Homo sapiens: one gene and its partners. The protein of the gene in region 3 purifies or fractionates together with the protein of the main gene of each other region. This does not show direct contact. Each region holds a gene or a part of one and is shown on either strand. Other genes may lie near its edges.

The links.
Region 1: the proteins of PABPC1 (region 3) and SYNCRIP fractionate together in Homo sapiens (co-fractionation; 3 studies listed by BioGRID). This does not show direct contact.
Region 2: the proteins of PABPC1 (region 3) and G3BP1 purify together in Homo sapiens (affinity purification with western blotting; 5 studies listed by BioGRID and IntAct, with this or other methods). This does not show direct contact.
Region 4: the proteins of PABPC1 (region 3) and DHX15 fractionate together in Homo sapiens (co-fractionation; 4 studies listed by BioGRID). This does not show direct contact.

What each region holds. Positions count from the first base shown.
Region 1 is NC_000006.12:85,613,476-85,619,222, reverse strand, and holds the end of SYNCRIP (heterogeneous nuclear ribonucleoprotein Q), read left to right. Parts: intron 1-283; coding exon 284-405; intron 406-3,875; coding exon 3,876-4,467; 3' UTR 4,468-5,247; downstream 5,248-5,747. UniProt on the Homo sapiens protein: Heterogenous nuclear ribonucleoprotein (hnRNP) implicated in mRNA processing mechanisms. Component of the CRD-mediated complex that promotes MYC mRNA stability.
Region 2 is NC_000005.10:151,809,809-151,813,476, reverse strand, and holds the end of G3BP1 (ras GTPase-activating protein-binding protein 1), read right to left. Parts: 3' UTR 692-3,668; downstream 1-691. UniProt on the Homo sapiens protein: Protein involved in various processes, such as stress granule formation and innate immunity. Plays an essential role in stress granule formation.
Region 3 is NC_000008.11:100,702,143-100,705,151, reverse strand, and holds the end of PABPC1 (polyadenylate-binding protein 1), read left to right. Parts: intron 1-95; coding exon 96-226; intron 227-761; coding exon 762-854; 3' UTR 855-855; exon of another isoform or gene 856-1,792; 3' UTR 1,793-2,236; downstream 2,237-3,009. UniProt on the Homo sapiens protein: Binds the poly(A) tail of mRNA, including that of its own transcript, and regulates processes of mRNA metabolism such as pre-mRNA splicing and mRNA stability.
Region 4 is NC_000004.12:24,574,384-24,581,719, forward strand, and holds part of DHX15 (ATP-dependent RNA helicase DHX15), read right to left. Parts: intron 2,296-7,336; coding exon 1,860-2,295; intron 1-1,859.

The DNA of each region.
Region 1 (5,747 bases), on a different chromosome or scaffold from region 3:
TAGTCATTTTAGAATCTCAAAATAGTTTTACAAATTGGAGGAGACTTTGGAAGTCCATGGAATCCATTCAAACTAAAACCTTTTGGTTTTAGTGATGTTGGCAGTTTTCTAAGTAAAAATGAAAAATAATTGAATATCTGCATCTTTAAATAAAATTATTTGACTGCCTGCATGGGGCTTTCTCTTGTCCTTCCCACATTAATGATAAATGATATTCCAACTTTAAATGAATCATAATTGTATGAAAGTCCTATTTTTATATTGACTTATCTAATTTTTTAAGGCTATGGAAGAAATGAATGGCAAAGACTTGGAGGGAGAAAATATTGAAATTGTTTTTGCCAAGCCACCAGATCAGAAAAGGAAAGAAAGAAAAGCTCAGAGGCAAGCAGCAAAAAATCAAATGTGAGTGAAATTTGTATACTTAAAAATTGTATAAATTTTAATATTTATACACTAATTGGAAAATAACAGGTGTTGATCAGACTTGTTAAATGCATAACATCTCTTTAAAGAAGACTTGAACGTTTGAGAGTCATAGGGAAACACCAGTGATCTAAGTGTTTATTGAACTCTTACTATGAACCATATTTGTGAAAATAATCAGAATTGTAAATAACTGGAATTTTGGTAAATTGGCAAGATGAAAAATCTGTCTAGCTTTTTTTTTGTTTTGTATTGGGTGACAGAGTCTCACTTTGTCACTCAGGCTGGAGTGCAGTGGCACTCTTTCGGCTCACTGGAACCTCCACCTCCCGGGTTCAAGAGATTCTCCTGCCTCAGTCTTCTGAGTAGCTGGGTTACAGGCGCCACCATGCCTGGTAATTTTTGTGTTTTTTTTTTTAGTAGGGGTGGGGTTTCGTCATGTTGGCCAGGTTGGTCTCAAACTCCTGACCTCAGGTGATCCGCCCACCTCTGCCTCCCAAAGTGCTGGGATTACAGCTGTGAGCCACCATGCCTGGCCTATCTCACATATTTTCTTTGTATTTTACAGAATGTTCTTCTGAAAATGTCTTAAATATTAGCTGTCCAAATATCTTAATACATTTTGTTAAAGGGTGGAGAGTTTTTTCTCTGAGAGATAGGAAATACTAAATCTCTATTCATGATAGACTGTTTCTTCACCAGTAGTGCTCATTGCCACCCCAAAAATTTCATGTTCGATGGATGGATTTTGAAAATGAAATGAGTATTAAAATTATAACACAGTAGTGCAATAAGAAAACAAGTAGGTGTGTAATGAGTTATACTAATTAGGGAGACCTTTTTAGAGAATCTGTAAATAGGTATCTGCTTAAGACTGAAGGAAACTTAGTTGGGTAAGAATTGAAGTTAGCTCCTAAAAAGTTAGTTACTGATTTCCTAGAAGAGGGGTAATTGTTCTTGAATGTGAGAGCAATAATCACTGTCAATACTATTCAAGGTTAATTTTCTGTTGATTGCCCTGTTTGGAATTTAAAGGAAGAGGATGCTTCTACATATTTCTGTTACTTCATAATCAGGGAATTGATCAAGTTCTAGTTTCTGCAGTTAATTGTCCAGTTGGACAAGTTGGCAAGCTCTGAACCTCAATTTCTTCAGTTCTAAAATGGGATCAGACAAAATTATGTAATAGCTCTGGATTATGTGATTATCCAAGTGACCCATGCTTGTTCTGGGACCAAAGAAAATATACTTTGTAGGTTTGATGATAGTGTAAATGAAGGAAGACTACAAAAAGAGTTAGTTTTAATGCTCTATATTTCAAACACCTGGATATACTAAACAGTGTAAAATAACTTCTTTTTATTTCTTTCAGAAGACGATATATGGTTAATTTATTAAAGTAGAATGTAAGTATAGGAGATTATATTAGATAATGTGATTAGAGCAGTTACATTTGGTACTTGATAGAGGGAGATACTAAATAGAAGGTGGAGGATGTCAGTATATCTGTTAATATTTGAAAAGGAGTACAAACTAAAAGGGATGATTGCATGTTACTTTCGTACTTTAACTTGCTACAGTCTTTTTTTTTTTTTTTTTAAGTTTTAACTAAGCACGTATTCCTACATAATTCTCACTGTATTCCTGTGAGTTAGGTACTCTATCCCTTAGTTTGAAATGAGGAAACTGAGGCTCAGAAGTCAACTTCCTTGGGGTCATTCACATAGTAAGTAGTGGAGTTGGATTTGAACTAAGGTAGTCTAGTCTCCCATAATTTTCCCTCTTAACCACTATACCAGGATTTCTCATCTCTGTCCTCCTGACATTTTGGGCTGGATAATTCTTGGTCTTGGGGGCTGCCCTGTGCGTTGTAGGACTTTTAGCAGCATCCTTGGCCTCTTCCTGCTAGATGCCAGTAGCACCCCCTTTCTCAGTTATGACCGTCTAAAATGTCCCCCTGGAAAGAGGTGGTGGCAAAATTATCCCTGGTGAGAACTATTTAGAAATAGAAAAGGATGATCTTTCCATCATTTCCTCAAAACAATAAACCAGCAGAGCACATAAAAGGTCTAAGGACCTAGTGAACCGGAATAACATTTTTACGTTAGTCAGTTGGAACAGGGGCCTTTAATAATTCAGGATAAAATAAGGCCGGGCGTGGTGGCTCATGCCTGTAATCCCACCACTTTGGGAGGCTGAGGTGGGCAGATCACTCTAGGCCGAGGTGGGTGGATCATTCGAGGTTAGGAGTTCGAGACCAGCCTGGCCAACATGGTGAAACCCCATCTCTACTAAAAATAAAAATTGGCTAGGTATGGTGGCACATGCCTATAGTCCCAGCTACTCGAGAGGCTGTGGCAGGAGAATCACTTGAACCCAGGAGGTGGAGGTTGCAGTGAGGTGAGATTGCGCCACTGCATTGCAGCCTGGGTGACAGAGCAAGACTGTGTCTCAAATAAATAAATAAATAAAATAACATAACAGGTACGGAATAAAAAACACGAGTAAATTATTCCTTCAAGAGGGATTAATTTCCATATTTCATGGGATTATTGGGCTCAAAATAATCACTAAGTTTTAAGGAATTGTATAAAATTGTACTGTAGGGAACATGAGTTGGAATATTGTAACTTCGTTTAGTCCTTTTACATAGTATGTAAGCATATGCTGATTTGTGTGGTTGCTTTCTAATCACTTTGACAACTAAAGTTATACCTGTTTAGTGGTTAAAGTTCAGCACTATAGTTACGGTGTAGTTTATTTTTGGGAAAGTAGCAGATCTTTTAAATTTTACTTGGATAGCATTATTGTAGAAACAGGAAAACTTTAAGGTCTTTATGCTAATTTACTGTAGTAAACTTTGAACTTCACACATTTTGGTTGTGTGCTTGTCCTACTTGCCATTTTGCTTTTGTAATAAATGTTCTTCAAGTATATTGGAATAGAATCTTAGCAGAAATGCAATTCAAAGTGACAAATTTTTTTTTGAGTCAGAGTCTCGCTCTGTCACCCAGGCTGGAGTGCAGTGATGTGACCTTGGCTTACTGCAGCCTCCGCCACCTGGGTTCAAGCGATTCACCTGCTTCACTCAGCCTCCCGCATAGCTGGGATTACAGGCATGACCGCTCCCAGCCCTAAAGTGGCAAATTTGACAGCTAAATCAATTGTAAAAATTCTGTAACAGGTTTATTGGGAGATTTTGAAGATCATGAAGAAATAAATAAGGTTCATAACTAGAGATTTGTGGTATTTTGGGATGCCTATATTGTCATCCTGATCCTCTGATCATTACTACTACTAAAACTTAATCTAGTACAAATAATTCTGTATTAAAGTTATGTGAATTATGCGAAGTAAACTCTGGATTTAAACTGTTACAAATGGCTAAATGCCTACTTGTTAACTAAGTAATTTGATTTAAACTCTAATCTCTGTCTCTTTTTTAATAGGTATGACGATTACTACTATTATGGTCCACCTCATATGCCCCCTCCAACAAGAGGTCGAGGGCGTGGAGGTAGAGGTGGTTATGGATATCCTCCAGATTATTATGGATATGAAGATTATTATGATTATTATGGTTATGATTACCATAACTATCGTGGTGGATATGAAGATCCATACTATGGTTATGAAGATTTTCAAGTTGGAGCTAGAGGAAGGGGTGGTAGAGGAGCAAGGGGTGCTGCTCCATCCAGAGGTCGTGGGGCTGCTCCTCCCCGCGGTAGAGCCGGTTATTCACAGAGAGGAGGTCCTGGATCAGCAAGAGGCGTTCGAGGTGCGAGAGGAGGTGCCCAACAACAAAGAGGCCGCGGGGTACGTGGTGCGAGGGGTGGCCGCGGTGGAAATGTAGGAGGAAAGCGCAAAGCTGATGGGTACAACCAGCCAGATTCCAAGCGGCGCCAGACCAATAATCAGAACTGGGGCTCCCAACCCATTGCTCAGCAACCGCTCCAAGGTGGTGATCATTCTGGTAACTATGGTTACAAATCTGAAAACCAGGAGTTTTATCAGGATACTTTTGGGCAACAGTGGAAGTAGAAACAGTAGGGCCTCTGTAAAATTGGAGACTGATAGGTTGATCAGAAACTCACCCTAAATCTGAACGGGTGCCGCTATAATTTGTGACATCTGGCAAGATTTCCCTTTATGTATATATTTTAACAATCCGCTTGGACACGAACAAAGCCACACTTCTAACTGCTTCTGGCGAACTGATTTTATTTTTAATTTTTTTCAATAAAGATATTCTTAGATACTGAAAGAAATAGTTAATGAGTTTGCATTTGTGCTTGAGAAAATTTGGCTCAAGTCCATTTGGCTGTAGTGTCAACGATGTTTCCAGTAGTGTTTAGATTTGGTGTCTTCAAAGGTAGTTGATTAAAACCAAGTGTGTCTTTAATATCTTGTATCAGAATAACTTTGTATGTTACCAACTTAAATTGCTAGAATAAGGTAAATTGATACACAACTGCTATTTTTAATTTAGAACTTTGACCTAATTTGGGTTTTCAAAACCATTTTGGCTACTTGTATTCTTTATGCTGTTGTTTATTTCAATAAAAAATTCACACCTAAATGTATACTTACTAAAATTGTGTTTACAATTCGTTTTTCACAAAATTTCCTGCAAATTTGGTTCAAATTGTATAGCATGTCAAGGCCAATTAAAGGGTTTTGTGCCTTGTTAATTCTTGTGTGGAATATGTCTGCACATTACACAACACTGATTTATTGCAGTTTTCTGCTTCTGGTTTAAAGTGCTATTTTACAACAGACTTCATGTTCCCATCAAAAATAAAAAGATAATACATGTAGTAAGTTTAAGTTGGTAAGTATTTTAGAGTTCTTAATTGTGATGAATGAACTGTATAAAAGGACAAATTCAGGTAGTCTCAAAGGGTTTGCAGGTCACACTGACAAGTCCACTTTCAGTTGCCTAAAGTTTATCCTAACTAACCTAAAACTCAGATTGAGTATATTGCCCTCTTGACTGTTTTGCACACCATGGGACTAGAAAGCAGCAAAGAAACTCTAGTGTGAAAACAATGGGAATAGGTTTGGGTAATTTGTGAGTTGCACTCTAAATAATCACTGTACTTACCTAATTAAAAATAAAACAGCTTTACAGTTAGTTTTGGGTAAGCAAATATATATCTGAAGGATAAAATTTACCTCACAGACTGGTTTGTATTAAAGATCTAATAGTTTGGATTTTTGTTTCACATTTTAGTCTTGTTTTGGCCATATGGTCTATACTTCTAACAGTAATGATGGGAAAATGTTAGAGTTTTGGGGGACAGACTCTAGGTCAACAGTGA
Region 2 (3,668 bases), on a different chromosome or scaffold from region 3:
TATAAGTAAATTAAATCCCAAACAGGTCCCACCTGCTTAGTATACTGAATGGATCTAGACAAAATACCTACTCAATGTGATTTTTGTGCTTATTAGACAGAAGGTTAGTGCAATGTTTAAAAAAAAAGAAAAAACAGCTTGAGTTCTACTTTCAAAACAAACATAGCAGGGACCTCAGTGGTCTCCAAGTACATCTGACAAACTGGATAAAACATGTCTTCAACTGCTTTGGACTTGAAATGGACAAAGTGAAACACAAAATGACCAAAACAAAAACCTAATACTTTTAAGCCCTCTTGATATTCCAAGACTGCCAAAGGCTATTCCACTCTCATTGTCTAGATCAGCATCACAGTAGACCTGTTGAATAAAAATCACCTTATCTAGAATTGATGCAAGTTACTGCAATGAATAACTTGTAGTACATTTAGGGTGAAGAGTGGCTGGTGCATGATTAGAATACTCAGTGACTGTTAACTTGGCAAGTGTTCAAACATACCACAGTGCTTCCAAATCACAAATCACTTGGTCCTCTCTCCCAGGACAGGCCACTTACGGAGACCTTATTCTCAAACTTGACTGGCCTAGGGAAGCTATAGAAAGAGACCAAATTACCTTGCAGCCATAGCTGTGAACACACTGGAGCCATACTTGAAAACTGGCGATGAACAGGACAACAGAGAGATACCAATTCATTGCTAAAACATTCCAAAATGAGTTTATTACAAAATAAATGCACAGTCACTGGAGGAAGGGGTTATTTTATTTATACACTCGATCTTAGATTTAGCAACCTTTCATTTTGACTCAGGATTCATTGACTAACTTAAGATGGGCTAGTTTCTGCCAACAGGGCAAGAGTGTGCAATCTCAGAGTCCCACCCAACCTGGCCAAAGCAAATGACTTCTGCATTAATTAGAAGTCATCCCCAAAGGACTTGCCCTTCATGTTTTCCCCATTTTGCCCGCTTAGATACTTGCACAAAAGATGCACCCTTTGTCTTTAAAGTTCCCTAGTTCGATGTTTAGGCAGAAGAGCAAATCCCAGGTTATTATTCTGCAAATAATTTTACATTTCCTTTATTCCAAAAATGTAGCTACCAACTTAAATGTATCATGACACACAAGGGGTAAAAGTTAGATACGAACTTCCAATAGCTAGGGCATGTTTCCTGAAACACTATCGTTCATTAGTACATTATTCAAGAAGTTACCTTAACCCCAAAGAATCTAAGAAGGGCACTGTGTAATTCTTCAGGTCACAATGCCAGCATGACTGTGGAGTCTGTTACAGGTAAGACAATCACAAGTTACAATGCTGTGATTCCAAATACTTTGGGGATGTAGAAAATGTGCTTAGCTGGGCAGCATGAATTAGCTCAGCAACATAGTGCTATGATGGAAGAGGTTCAAGATGATTCATACTTTCACGCCAGACCAGAAGTCACAAGCTCACATAGCGGCAACTCTGACAGCTAGCCAAAGTAGAAGATACTTCTAAAAAGCAGCCTGGGGACATTTTAATTAATTGGCCTGGAAAATCAGGTCAGAATTACAAAGTTCCTCATCCTTATGAAGAAGAAAATGTGATAGTATGTCTTTTATATGGAAATTTCTTTGTATATATGTATAAACTTGGTATGGCCTTAATGCTGCAGTTAAGGATTTGTCTGGCTACCACCTTAAGCAGCGTGTTAAGCAATCGCTTCCTTAATGTAACATTTTTACTTCTTACTGGACACTCAACCTTGAACAACTAATTCCCTTTTGCCCCTTACTCTTCCCCCCTTTTTTTGCATGAAGTCACAAAAGTTATGGCAGTTATTTTTTGGCTTGTAAAAAAAAAAAATCTATTTCTGCAGTTTGAAGATGGAATGTAAAATTTCTGTGAAACATGTATATAAAAGTATATTTATTGAACCATCCATATACACATATCCATGCTGATTCCAATGGAAAAAAATTAAAGTTTTCTGAAATTTTCTGTGGTTAACTCATAATTATTACTATTTAACCAACTTTATATGCAAGAACTTCCAATTACCCCAGGGAGAAACCTATGTATGACCTGGAAAACATCTCACTTTAGACAAGGCTTTATGTCGAGAAATGAGAATTCATTTGTTCATTCAAGAAGTATTTATTGATAGGTGCTAGGCAAGATACAAAGATGACTCAGACACAGATCCTGCCCATAAGGAGCTTACAGTCTAATAGGGGAGAGAGAACACATACATGGAATACATGGTCAGAACTATGTTTCAGTAAGATGAATCTAACATTGTGTATAAAGTAGGCTGGAGTAAGAGGTTAAGTGAAGCTGAGAGACTACTGAAATTACATAGGTGAGGAAGAAAGACGGGAAAGACTTGAGGTAGAACTGACAGGACTTAGCTGAAGACTGGATGTGGGGAATAACAAAAATGGAAGCAGATGACTCAGACTTTAGCATGGATGATGTCATGAACTGAAAGAAGGAACAAGTTTTTGCAAAGAAATGAAAATTTCATATAAAATTCTTCTGCATAGAAACAAACTGTCTGGGATATACTAGGCACAATCAGGAAGAAATGGCTAGTTACCCAGACCAATGGAAGCACCTCAAACTGGCCAGTGACTTCCTCCCCCTTATATATCCATCCCCCCAAATTTCCCAACAATTTTCTCCACTGAAATGGTATAGTGCCTAAAATTTATTAAATTCAAGGTCTATCTCCAGACATGGCCTCCCTTGGGAATGAAAACAGAAATATATTAAGTTATTCAACTCAGTAAGTTTCATCTAAAGACTCTAGTTATGAGTCACTGTACCTTCTGGTGGAATACAGAGATGAACTCCCTAGTCCTTATCTTCTAGGAGCTTACAGTCTAGTAAAGTAGTAAAACAGATAATGTAATTCTAATTCTAGACTGAAGGGGTAAGTTATGAACTACGAGAAAGACAAAGTGCTCTAGAACAGTTTCAGAAATGAAGGTTGGAACAGGACCTCAAACAAGAGGGAAAATGTGGAAAGTAGATGAGAATGGATTTGTTCCTCACTCCAAATTCTGGACAGATCAGCCCCAAAACGGGGCTACTCCCCATTCCTGTTGAAATTTTTTCTTAGGAAAAAATATAGCTCTTGTACTGATCTTTTAAAAAATTACTTACATGGCAAGAGATCAGAGGAAAGGGGGGATTGTAGATCTCAGTGGACCTTCGGGGAAGACAGAAGGCACTTGAAGCCAAGGAATCACAATGCCTGGCTTATCGGGAGGACCCTCAGTGTTTTAGCAAGGCTGGAGCATCACTTCCATGAAGAGTGGGAGAAATAACTCAAAAGTAATATTAAGACCTTGATATAAACATGGCATTGCCAGGCACTAAACAGGGTACACGCCTAAGACCAAATTGCTGCCCCCTAGGAGCTTACAGTTACAACAATACAAGGTGGAAAAAGCACCACAATGTACAGAATGCAAAATGCTGAAGTATTTAGGAGAAATTACAGCTGAGTTTCAGCTATTAACACATTAGGATACCCAATAGCTTTCTGACAGCTAGTAGTAAACCCATCCCTGAGGGGAGCACAAGTTAATGTCCTTAGACAACAAGCCCTGGTAGAGCTGGGCCATTAAAGACAGTTCTAAGAAAATTGAGAAAACAGGGGTATGAAAACTACAGAAGC
Region 3 (3,009 bases):
AAGTATGGTTCTTAAACCCCAGTTTAATGTGGTAATTCAATGCAGTTAAAAACTTTTTTTTATTGAAGGGAGTTTTTGAATGTTTCTGTTCCTAGGTGAACGGCTGTTTCCTCTTATTCAAGCCATGCACCCTACTCTTGCTGGTAAAATCACTGGCATGTTGTTGGAGATTGATAATTCAGAACTTCTTCATATGCTCGAGTCTCCAGAGTCACTCCGTTCTAAGGTGATTTAAATTTATTTACCAAGTTGCCTCTTACACAGTTATTACGTGGCTTTTTATGGGGACTTAATTGTACAGAACACTTACATCGTGTTATATATAAGCCATGTACAGTTGTAAAGTCTGCATAATAACCTGTGGCGCTATTTATCCCCATTTTATAGATAGGTAAACTGAAACAGGCTGAATAATTTGCCAAATGCTCACACAGCTCTTAAGTGGCAGAGCCTGGCTTCAAATCCCATCAGCTCCAACAGCCATACTCTCAACTGCTGCTGCTTTCTCTAGTGGAGAAAGAGAAATATTTTTCGAGTGTGGGGAGGACAAGGAAAGAGTAGTGCAGGGGAGCGATTCATAATTCTAGAATAGTGGTGTAATAGAACTCAAAATTGAATGGATATAGTTGTTTAGTGTAACAATTTATACTTTCATTTGAGGGAAGAAACTTATCTTTGTTGGGAATTGGTATGTTACCATTATGAAACTCTTTATTTCCATTCCTTTCCTGAACCAGTTTATCTGTTTTCCCCTTTTTTAGGTTGATGAAGCTGTAGCTGTACTACAAGCCCACCAAGCTAAAGAGGCTGCCCAGAAAGCAGTTAACAGTGCCACCGGTGTTCCAACTGTTTAAAGTGAGCTTTTCCCTCTGGTTTGTTGTTTTAAGCTTGTTTTCTTCATCTTTTATAAAGTTTGTTGAGCATATTTTGAAATGTACATAGCAAAAGATCATTTTACAGTTCATTTAAATGTATTGCTAATTTTTCAAGGAAAAGTGGAACTAACTATAGAGGAATTAAAGGAATTTTACCCGTTAACTGTTGGATTTTTAAAATCCCAGGACTTTCAGGTGGTGTTTTTTTTTTTTTTTTTTTTTGAGATGGAGTTTCGTTCTGTCGCCCAACCTGGAGTGCATTGACGCGATCTCGGCTCACTGCAACCTCCACCTCCCAGGTTCAAGCAATTCTCCTGCCTCGGCCTCCCGAGCAGCTGGGATTAACAGGCCCATGCCTGCCACCGTGCCCAGCTAATTTTTGTATTTTTACTAGACTTGGGGTTTTGCCATGTTGGCCAGGCTGGTCTGGAACTTCTGACCTCAAGTGATCCGCCCACCTCGGCCTCCCAAAGTCTTGAAATTACAGGCGTGAGCCACTGCGCCCTGCCAGATTTTGTATAGTAATATATATATAAAATGACCTGTCACAGGTTGGCTTTCATAGTTTTACCTTTCCTTTTTGGGTGGTGCCCTTGGGTCTCTACTACTGTCTTTCATCACTCCCAAGAAATTGAGTAGTGCAGCCAGGATCAGGACCAGGGATTGGCAAATGTTTTTTGTAAAGGGCCAGATAGGAAATATTTTGGGCTTTGAGGACTGTGTTATCTCTGAAATGATCTTGTTCCAGTGTTACCATGTCAAGACAACCATAGATAGTATGTATACAAATGAACAGGTATGGCTGTGTTCCAGTAAAACTATGGATAAAAACAACCACATTGCATTTGGCTAAGGGCTTTAATTTGCTACTGACAAGTGATAGTCCTGGTCTTAATTTGTTTTTTTAACATTTACAGATTGATCAGGGACCATGAAAAGAAACTTGTGCTTCACCGAAGAAAAATATCTAAACATCGAAAAACTTAAATATTATGGAAAAAAAACATTGCAAAATATAAAATAAATAAAAAAAGGAAAGGAAACTTTGAACCTTATGTACCGAGCAAATGCCAGGTCTAGCAAACATAATGCTAGTCCTAGATTACTTATTGATTTAAAAACAAAAAAACACAAAAAAATAGTAAAATATAAAAACAAATTAATGTTTTATAGACCCTGGGAAAAAGAATTTTCAGCAAAGTACAAAAATTTAAAGCATTCCTTTCTTTAATTTTGTAATTCTTTACTGTGGAATAGCTCAGAATGTCAGTTCTGTTTTAAGTAACAGAATTGATAACTGAGCAAGGAAACGTAATTTGGATTATAAAATTCTTGCTTTAATAAAAATTCCTTAAACAGTGCACGGATTTGCTTTTTTTCAAAGTCTTTATAATTGCCATGCATAAATAGGTAATATCTTAATGGTGCTGAGCCGACATAAGAATCTTTTATGAAAAATGTACTGTTAAGTTCAGGGGGTCTATTGGTTTTATGTAAAAGGCACAAGACAATTCCTGTAGTGCATTTTATGAGTTAAGGTTTCCATACGGATTATTGAAACAATTTGTTACATGTATTTGTTACATGATCTTAATATTTCATGTACAAGACTGACACCCATCCACTTTTGAAGATAAGCCAGTTTATGGGGTTTTTTTTTTTGCGGGTAGAGGTTGGGTCTCCCTATTTTGTCCAGGCTGGTCTCGAATTCCTGGGCTCAAGCATAAGCATAAGGCTTATTCCTGCATAAGCCACCATGCCTGGCCTGCCAGTTGATGATTATATTGAGGTTTCTAGGCTATGAGATTATTAGCTTAAACCCTTACATGATATAAAACAATGATAGCTACTCTTGAAGAGGATGTAGATAAGATAGGCTTTGGTATGATTTTAATATTAAAGTGTTAAAAGTTATGATTAGTTTTAAACCTTATTCTTGTAACGTCTTTAATTTGGTAGTTCATGATTGTGGCTTAATTTTAGTGTAATACCCAAAGTACTTGTTAAAGGTGAAGATGTGGGGTTCTTTTAGGAGGATGGATTTAGAAGATCTAGCCTGGAGTATAGGGTATCTGCATAAAACTGATAACCCAGGCAGTTTACACTTTTAGGTTTTAATTTCTAACCGATCATT
Region 4 (7,336 bases), on a different chromosome or scaffold from region 3:
TTCAAATCCCCCAGATGTGCTGCAATCCTCAGTATCCAAGTATCTTAATTACCCCTCTAAAAGTTAAATATTAATCCAAATAATCACAAACCTCATCTTGAGTTGACCTGACCTCCTTCTACACTAACCATTAATAAACTCATCTCTGAAATGAGGCTACCCATAATCAGACCACAGAATAGCAGTATGAAATATAAAACTTTAGATATAAAGACAAAAGGTACAAAGTTTTAAATATTGAGCCCACCAAAATCCATAATCCATGTAACCCAGGACAATCCACTAAACCTAAGTTTCTCATAAACTTAAACCTCATTTTGCTCATCTGTAAAGTGGTGATGAATATCTTCCTGCAGGGTTATAGAAAAACGTAAATGAGCTAATACATGTAAAGTATACAGTGTCTGGCTTTACCCAAATATCAATTAAATAGTAAGTTCAGAGTTACAGTCTTTCTTGTAGTTTGAAAATTCTTAAAATTTCCGTAAGGTGATTTTTGAATACCCTAACATCAATTCTAAGTTTTCCTTCATTAAAAAAGAAAAATTGGCAAGGCTAAGGCAGGAGGATTGCTTTAGCTCAGGAGTTCAAAACCTCAACTCTACAAAAATTTTATTTAAAAATTAGCCAGGCACTGGTGGCATATGCCTGTGATCCCAGCTACTTGGGAGGCTGAGGCAGGAGGATCGCTTCAGCTCAGGAGGTTGACGCTGTGTTCATACCACTGCACTCCAGCATGGGTGAAAGACTGTCTCAACAACAACACAAAAATTAAAAAAAAAAAAAAGAAAAGAAAAGAAGAATGGTACTAAGGCTCAGTCTATAATAAAAGCTTCCTATTTTGGTTGCTACAGTACCTTCAAAATGTCTCCATGCACATGTAACTTTAGAAAAAGATAAATTGTGTATGCGGTATGTTCAATCTCTGCATGGTAAGACAGGTAATTCACTTCAATACTTTCCTGAATTTTTCAAAGTTTCTACAATGATCAGGGACTGCTACTTTTGAAACCAGAAATTTTTAATTGATGGTTCAGGCTTAAGTGTATAAAGACAGTTACTTCTCACCCACAGCAAGAAAATGCAAATTAAAAAGTACATTAGAATGCAATTTTTCACCTATTGGATTTGTAAAAATTCACGTTTTAATAGTTTCCCACGTGTTCTCCTACATGCTCATGGAAAGGTAAATTGATACGCTCCCTCTGGAAGGCTATCCAGCTTTCTGTATCACAATTACAAATGATCTTCTGACCCAGCAATTTCTGCTTCCTACAGAAACACTTGACCCATGCAAAACAACCATGGGAAACAGTCTAAATGTCTATCAACAGGGGTCTAGTTAATAATAGCCCATCCATGTTTAAAAAATATCCTAGCTATATTACAAATAACACACTAGTAACAGTGTTTAGTTCTATGGGAGGGAGGACGACTAGATGGACAAAAGTCACCGGTATAGACTTTATATTACTTTGGCATTTCATTTTTTGCATGGTTCAAAATACCATATTAAATACAAACGACAAAAATCTACCCCAGTGATTTCTCCACCCAAGTACCAGAAAACAAACTGTGGGTCCCTAAATCTGTACTGTCCGGGAGTCAAAATACCTCTGCCATACATAAGGTAACAAAATTTGAAAAGCGAGCACCACTATTTTCCCCTAGATTCAGGGGAGAGGTATTCTCTATAGGATTTCCACTCTGAAATTCAGAGTGCCAATTAAACATCAAATCAGCTATTCTTCAAGATGTTCTATAGGACAGACAAGGGAAATGACCACCAGAATCAAATATGCAACATTTGGTAAACTTAAACATAAATGAAATATGTACCATGGTATACAATAACTCACCTGTGTTGTTTTACCAGACCCAGTCTCACCAACCAGTACAAAGGACTGATGTCTAACCAGAATATCTGTAAACCTATCCTTGTATTCCCAAACAGGGAGCTGAAGACGTTTCTTTAGAATATCATAGTATCGAGGAGTATGGGGTAAGTTGGTGAACGGATTAATGCACTGTGGAAGTGACGTGTGACCTGCATGTCCGGCATGCGTTGAATGAGCAGAATGTGTTGAATGCGTTGAATGTGCTGAGTGGGTTGAGTGAGCTGAATGGGAAGCTTTCAAAGGTGGTAATCCAGCACTGATAAGCATAGCATTTGTTGAAGCTCGCAACTCCTTCTCCTTTTCTTTCTCCCTCTCTCGCTCTCTATCTCCTCTATCACGTTCTCGGTCTCGATCTTTAGACCGATCTTCACGATCCCGGTCTCGATCTCGATCCTTCCTAAAAACAAAAATTTAGAATTCAGATTCTGAATTTTATGCAGAATGTTCACGGTAGCGTTATAATCACAAAGAGAGTAAATGTCCAACGTTCAAATGAATAAAAAGTCCAATGGATTATGTAACTATCAGAAATAATAAAAAATACCCTACAATCAAGGGTTTCCCATTCTCCACCACAAACATCTTTCCCTTCCTTGCTGATGCCCCACCTTCCTTAACTTTTAACATTAGGTGAGGTAACACAAGAACTCAGTCTGCTGCAAGTAAAACCCCTCCTACTTAGACAACAGAAATCAGATACTGAGGGTAGGATGAAGAAAGGATAGGTCCAAATTGAGTAAAAGAAGATGGCATCTCAATCTTTCTCAAATTCTCCTTCAATTTGTGAAGAGGTATTTTGTGCACTAAAAGTATATTCAGAAGTTAGCACAAACACTGCTACTGGAGATAAAGACAACTCCACCTCACATCATTACAGTCAACAGTGGTGGGTTTTGCTCAATACTTTTATAATCCACTTCTAATAAATTACTTTAATATTCCTTTCTTTGCCATAGGACGATGTTCGGTTGTAATGCAAAGTGAAAAGAGCATAGTACAATGTTATACCTGTCAATATCTCAACTAATACAAATACGAATTACAGGACTGCAGAATTTGTTTTCTTAGTTATACTTTCCAGCACTTTCCCAATTTTGTTCAGTAAATGTATATTGCTTTATTAAAAAAACTGAAATTAAAACTTTTATTCCTTCTTGCTTGTTTACTCTTGCATTTTAACCTAAACAGCAACAGCAAAACACTGAAAGCACTCTATAAATCTATGTACCTTGGTCTACCATAAAATGAAACATAGCCAAATTAAAAATAAGCTTTGCTAAACACTATTAAGTTGTTTAACATGTTAAAATTATGCAGGTAGCCACTCTATTAAACCTGGGTCAATTTTAAGTAGTCAATGCTGGTATCTACTTCCAGTTACTAGAGATTGACCTTAATAAGTCATTTTAAAAGTATCTATGCTAAGAACTTCACAAGCAGAATGGCTGCAGGTTGTTCATATGCGTTGTGGCTGAAAGCAGCCTCTGGGAGACTGGTGGTGGGAATAAAATAAAATAATCTATGCTTGTTCATTTTACTAATCCAGTTTACTTCAGACCAAGTCCATCAGCAGAGAAATTTGCCTCAAGATCTTTAAACCCAGACTTGAAATAATGAGACATGACGGAGCTATGACACAAGCCCCGAAACATGTCATTGTTCCTTACCCACAATACACAAAAGTACAAATTCCCTGTGCTCCAAGTGCAGTTGTGTGACATGTACAAATTTACTCAAAAAGGGGAAAAGCCATATATATGCATATATAAACATGAAAAGTGATTTTCCCCTCTTCCATCCCAATGTTCACCTTCTACAAAAATCACAGAGCATACAAGCCAGAACTGTATGAAGCCTCTCATTTCACCTGGCATAAACAGAAAGAAAATCAATGGGAAAGAAAAGTCAAAGGATAACTTAATAAACATAAAATGAAGTCTCACAATTCAATACTTGAGAGTCTGGACCTATCTTCTGAAATATGCCATCAACTATCTTTGCTTCTCCTGCTTCTGGCCTAAGGTGACTGTTAATTAAGTGTTTACATTGCTCCAAAATGCCAACGAGGTGTAGTTTATAATAAGAGTACACAGAAATGTGCCCAGCAAAGTAAGAAGCACTGTACTCACAAATGGTTCAAATACTTGACACCTTAAAGATCATGGATCATACAGCTAGAAAAGAACTCTTAAAGAACATCTGGTCTGAACAAAAAGGATTCATGTTTCTAGTATTCACTCAACCATGGGGGAAGGAGGAGATGACAAAAAATATAATTGAAACAACTTCCTTTTTTTTGAGATAGGATCTTGCTCCATTACCCGGGTTGGAGTGCAGTGGCTCACTGGATCATGGCTCACTGCAATATCAAACTTCTGGGTTCAAGTGGTCCTCTCACCTCAGCCTCCCGAGTAACTGGGACTACAGGCATGCACCACCACGCCTCGCTAATTTCTTATTTTTGTAGAGATAAGGGTCTCACCATGTTGCCCAGGATGGTTTTCAACTCCTGGGATCAAGCAATCTCTTGCTTCAGCCTCCCAACGTGCTGGGATTACCGATGAGCTACCATGCCCAGCCTAGTTTAATGATTTCTATACTTCTAGCATAGTACCAGGCAATTAAGACATGGTCAAGAGTTACAAAATTTGGGGGAAGAGAGGTGACAAAGTAAATCATGTATTATATATTGCCTTAGTTTGTTAAAGTAATACCTATACTAACAAAGATTTTTTCAGGGGCCCACTTCATCAGATGCTTCATTACCAAACCAAACAAAGGATGTATAAAATACATTCTAAAGATAAAAGGTTAGCTGCTGATCAAGCAATGGCGACAGCTGTGGTATTAAGATAAAAGGAATGCTGGAATCACCATTGCAAGACACTGCCTCAATTTACTGATCTGCAAAATGAAGAGCATTTTCAGATACTTTTAGTCTCAGATTAAAGTAAGAAAACAGGGAGGATGCAGGAGGCAAATTCAGACACCTGGAAATGTTGCTTATGGCTCAAACTACCTTCCTTCGATGAGAGAGGGAGTACAAATGAAAGGTGAGTAAAAGGGGAAAATCAAACCCTCCACTTCATAAATATTTGTCAACTATTGTGCACATGCGTGTTTTCTTTTTTAAAAGATACTTTTTATTATAAAGGAGTTTTGTTCTTAAAAGTTTACTAGTTGAAGTATAAGGGTTTTTAAAAACTGGTATCAAGTCAGTGCTTCAGACACAGCCACACCACGAGCAGGGAGGGAGGTATGACATGACACAGTTGTTGAACATACTGCTCTGTACTGTGTCTCAGTTCAATCTTGGCTCAAGACTTAAGCCAACTATAGGATCACAGTTATTTCTTCCCTCACCTATAAGATGTGGCTATCAATATGTTTTGTAGAGTATAGATAGGATTAAATGAGTTAATATATGTGATGTGCTTTAAGTGTTGTCTGGCACATTGCAAATGCCCAATATCGGTTGTTGTTGTTATTATTACTATTATTTTGAGACGGAGTCTTGCTCTGTCACCAGGCTGGAGTGCAGTGGTGCAATCTCAGCTCACTGCAACCTCTGCCTCCCTGTTTCAAGCGATTCTCCTGCCTCAGCCTCCAGAGTAGCTGGGACTACAGGCACATGCTGCCACACCCAGTTAATTTTTGTATTTTTAGTAGAGACGAGGTTTCACCATGTTGGCCAGGATGGTTTCAATCTCTTGACCTCATGATCTGACTGCCTCGGCCTCCCAAAGTGCTGGGATTACTGGCATGAGCCACCGCGCCCCACCAATATTGGTTATTATTAAAGATCTTTTTAAGTTCTAATACCATGTTAAAATTCTACATGGAGGGCAAGACCTAGTGACTCACGCATGTAATCCCAGTGCTTTGGGAGGCCCAAGTGGGAGGATCACCAGAGGCCAAAAGTTTGAGACCAGCCTGAGCAATACAGTGAGACCCCATCTCTACAAAAAAATTTTAAACTTAGCTAGGTGGGGTGGCACGCCTGTAGTCCCAGCTACCTGGGAGGCTGAGACGGGAAGATCACTTGAGCCCTGGAATTTGAGACTGCAGTGAGCCATGATCACACCAGTGCACTCCAGCCTGGGAAACAGAGGAAGACCCTGTCTCTAAAAAATAAAAAAATTCTACATGGAATAATAACAGGCACTGAAGTACTGCTAAGGAAGACATTAACTGGTCATCAAAATCATGATATTTTAAATAAGCATTGCTTTTTTTTTTTTTTTTTAAAGACAGTCTACCTCTGTTACCCAGGCTGGAGTGTAGTGGTGCAATCTCGACTCACTGCAACCTCTGCCTCCCAGGTTCAAGCAATTCTCCTGCCTCAGCCTCCGGAGTAAGTAGCTGGGATTACAGCAGTGCGCCACCATGCCCAGTGTATTTTTGTATTTTTAACAGAGACAAAAATAGGTTTTATTACCTTGGCCAGGCTGGTCTTGAACTCCTGACCTCAGGTGATCCATTCGCCTAGGCCTCCCAAAGTGCTGTGATTACAGGTGTGAGCCATCACACCCGGCAATAAGCACTGCTTTTTATCCGTCAATCTTATTTCCAGGAACCTCTCAAGGATGTGTGCAAATACGTATGTATAAGGATGTTCATCAAACTTCTCATTTATAAAATAGCAACAAGTGGAAAACTACCTAAATATCAATGAACAGGATATTGGTTAAATAAGTGATGTCATACCTTTACAACTGGAGTACTATGGCAGTCAATCTATTTATTTTTTATTATTTTTTTTTTTTTGAGATGGAGGCTCGCTCTGTTGCCCAGGCTGGAGTGCAGTGGCACAATCTCGGCTCACTGCAAGCTCCGCCTCCCGGGTTCATACCATTCTTCCTCAGCCTCCCAGAGTAGCTGGGACTACAGGTGCCCGCCACCACACCCGGCTAATTTTTTGTATTTTTAGTAGAGACAGGGTTTCACCGTGTTAGCCAGGATGGTCTTGATCTCCTGACCTCGTGATCCACCCGCCTCGGCCTCCCAAAGTGCTGGGATTACAGGCGTGAGCCATTGCGCCCGGCCTATGGCAGCCAATTTAAAAGCGTAATGTGTACCTACAGTTAATGACATTTCTGAGTGGAAAAAAAAATCAAAGTACAAAATAACACGCGTTGATCCCACTGATATTAAATTTTATAGTTCATATTTTTGAGTCAATATGCAGAGATCTTAGAAAATGTTCACCAAAAACTGTTATCCAAAGATGGAGATGAAGATTTTAGGGAATGCCTTCTTTAAACCTTTGAGTATAAACATTTCTTATGTTCCCTGTGGCAAGTTCATTTAACCTCATCTACCATACAGGATTGTAGTGAAAATGTGCATGCTCCACAAATGTTATCACAGTATTAATACATTAGCTTTACTTTCCCATAATTAACAGAAAAAACTCTTATCAGGTGGTAATATCAAAA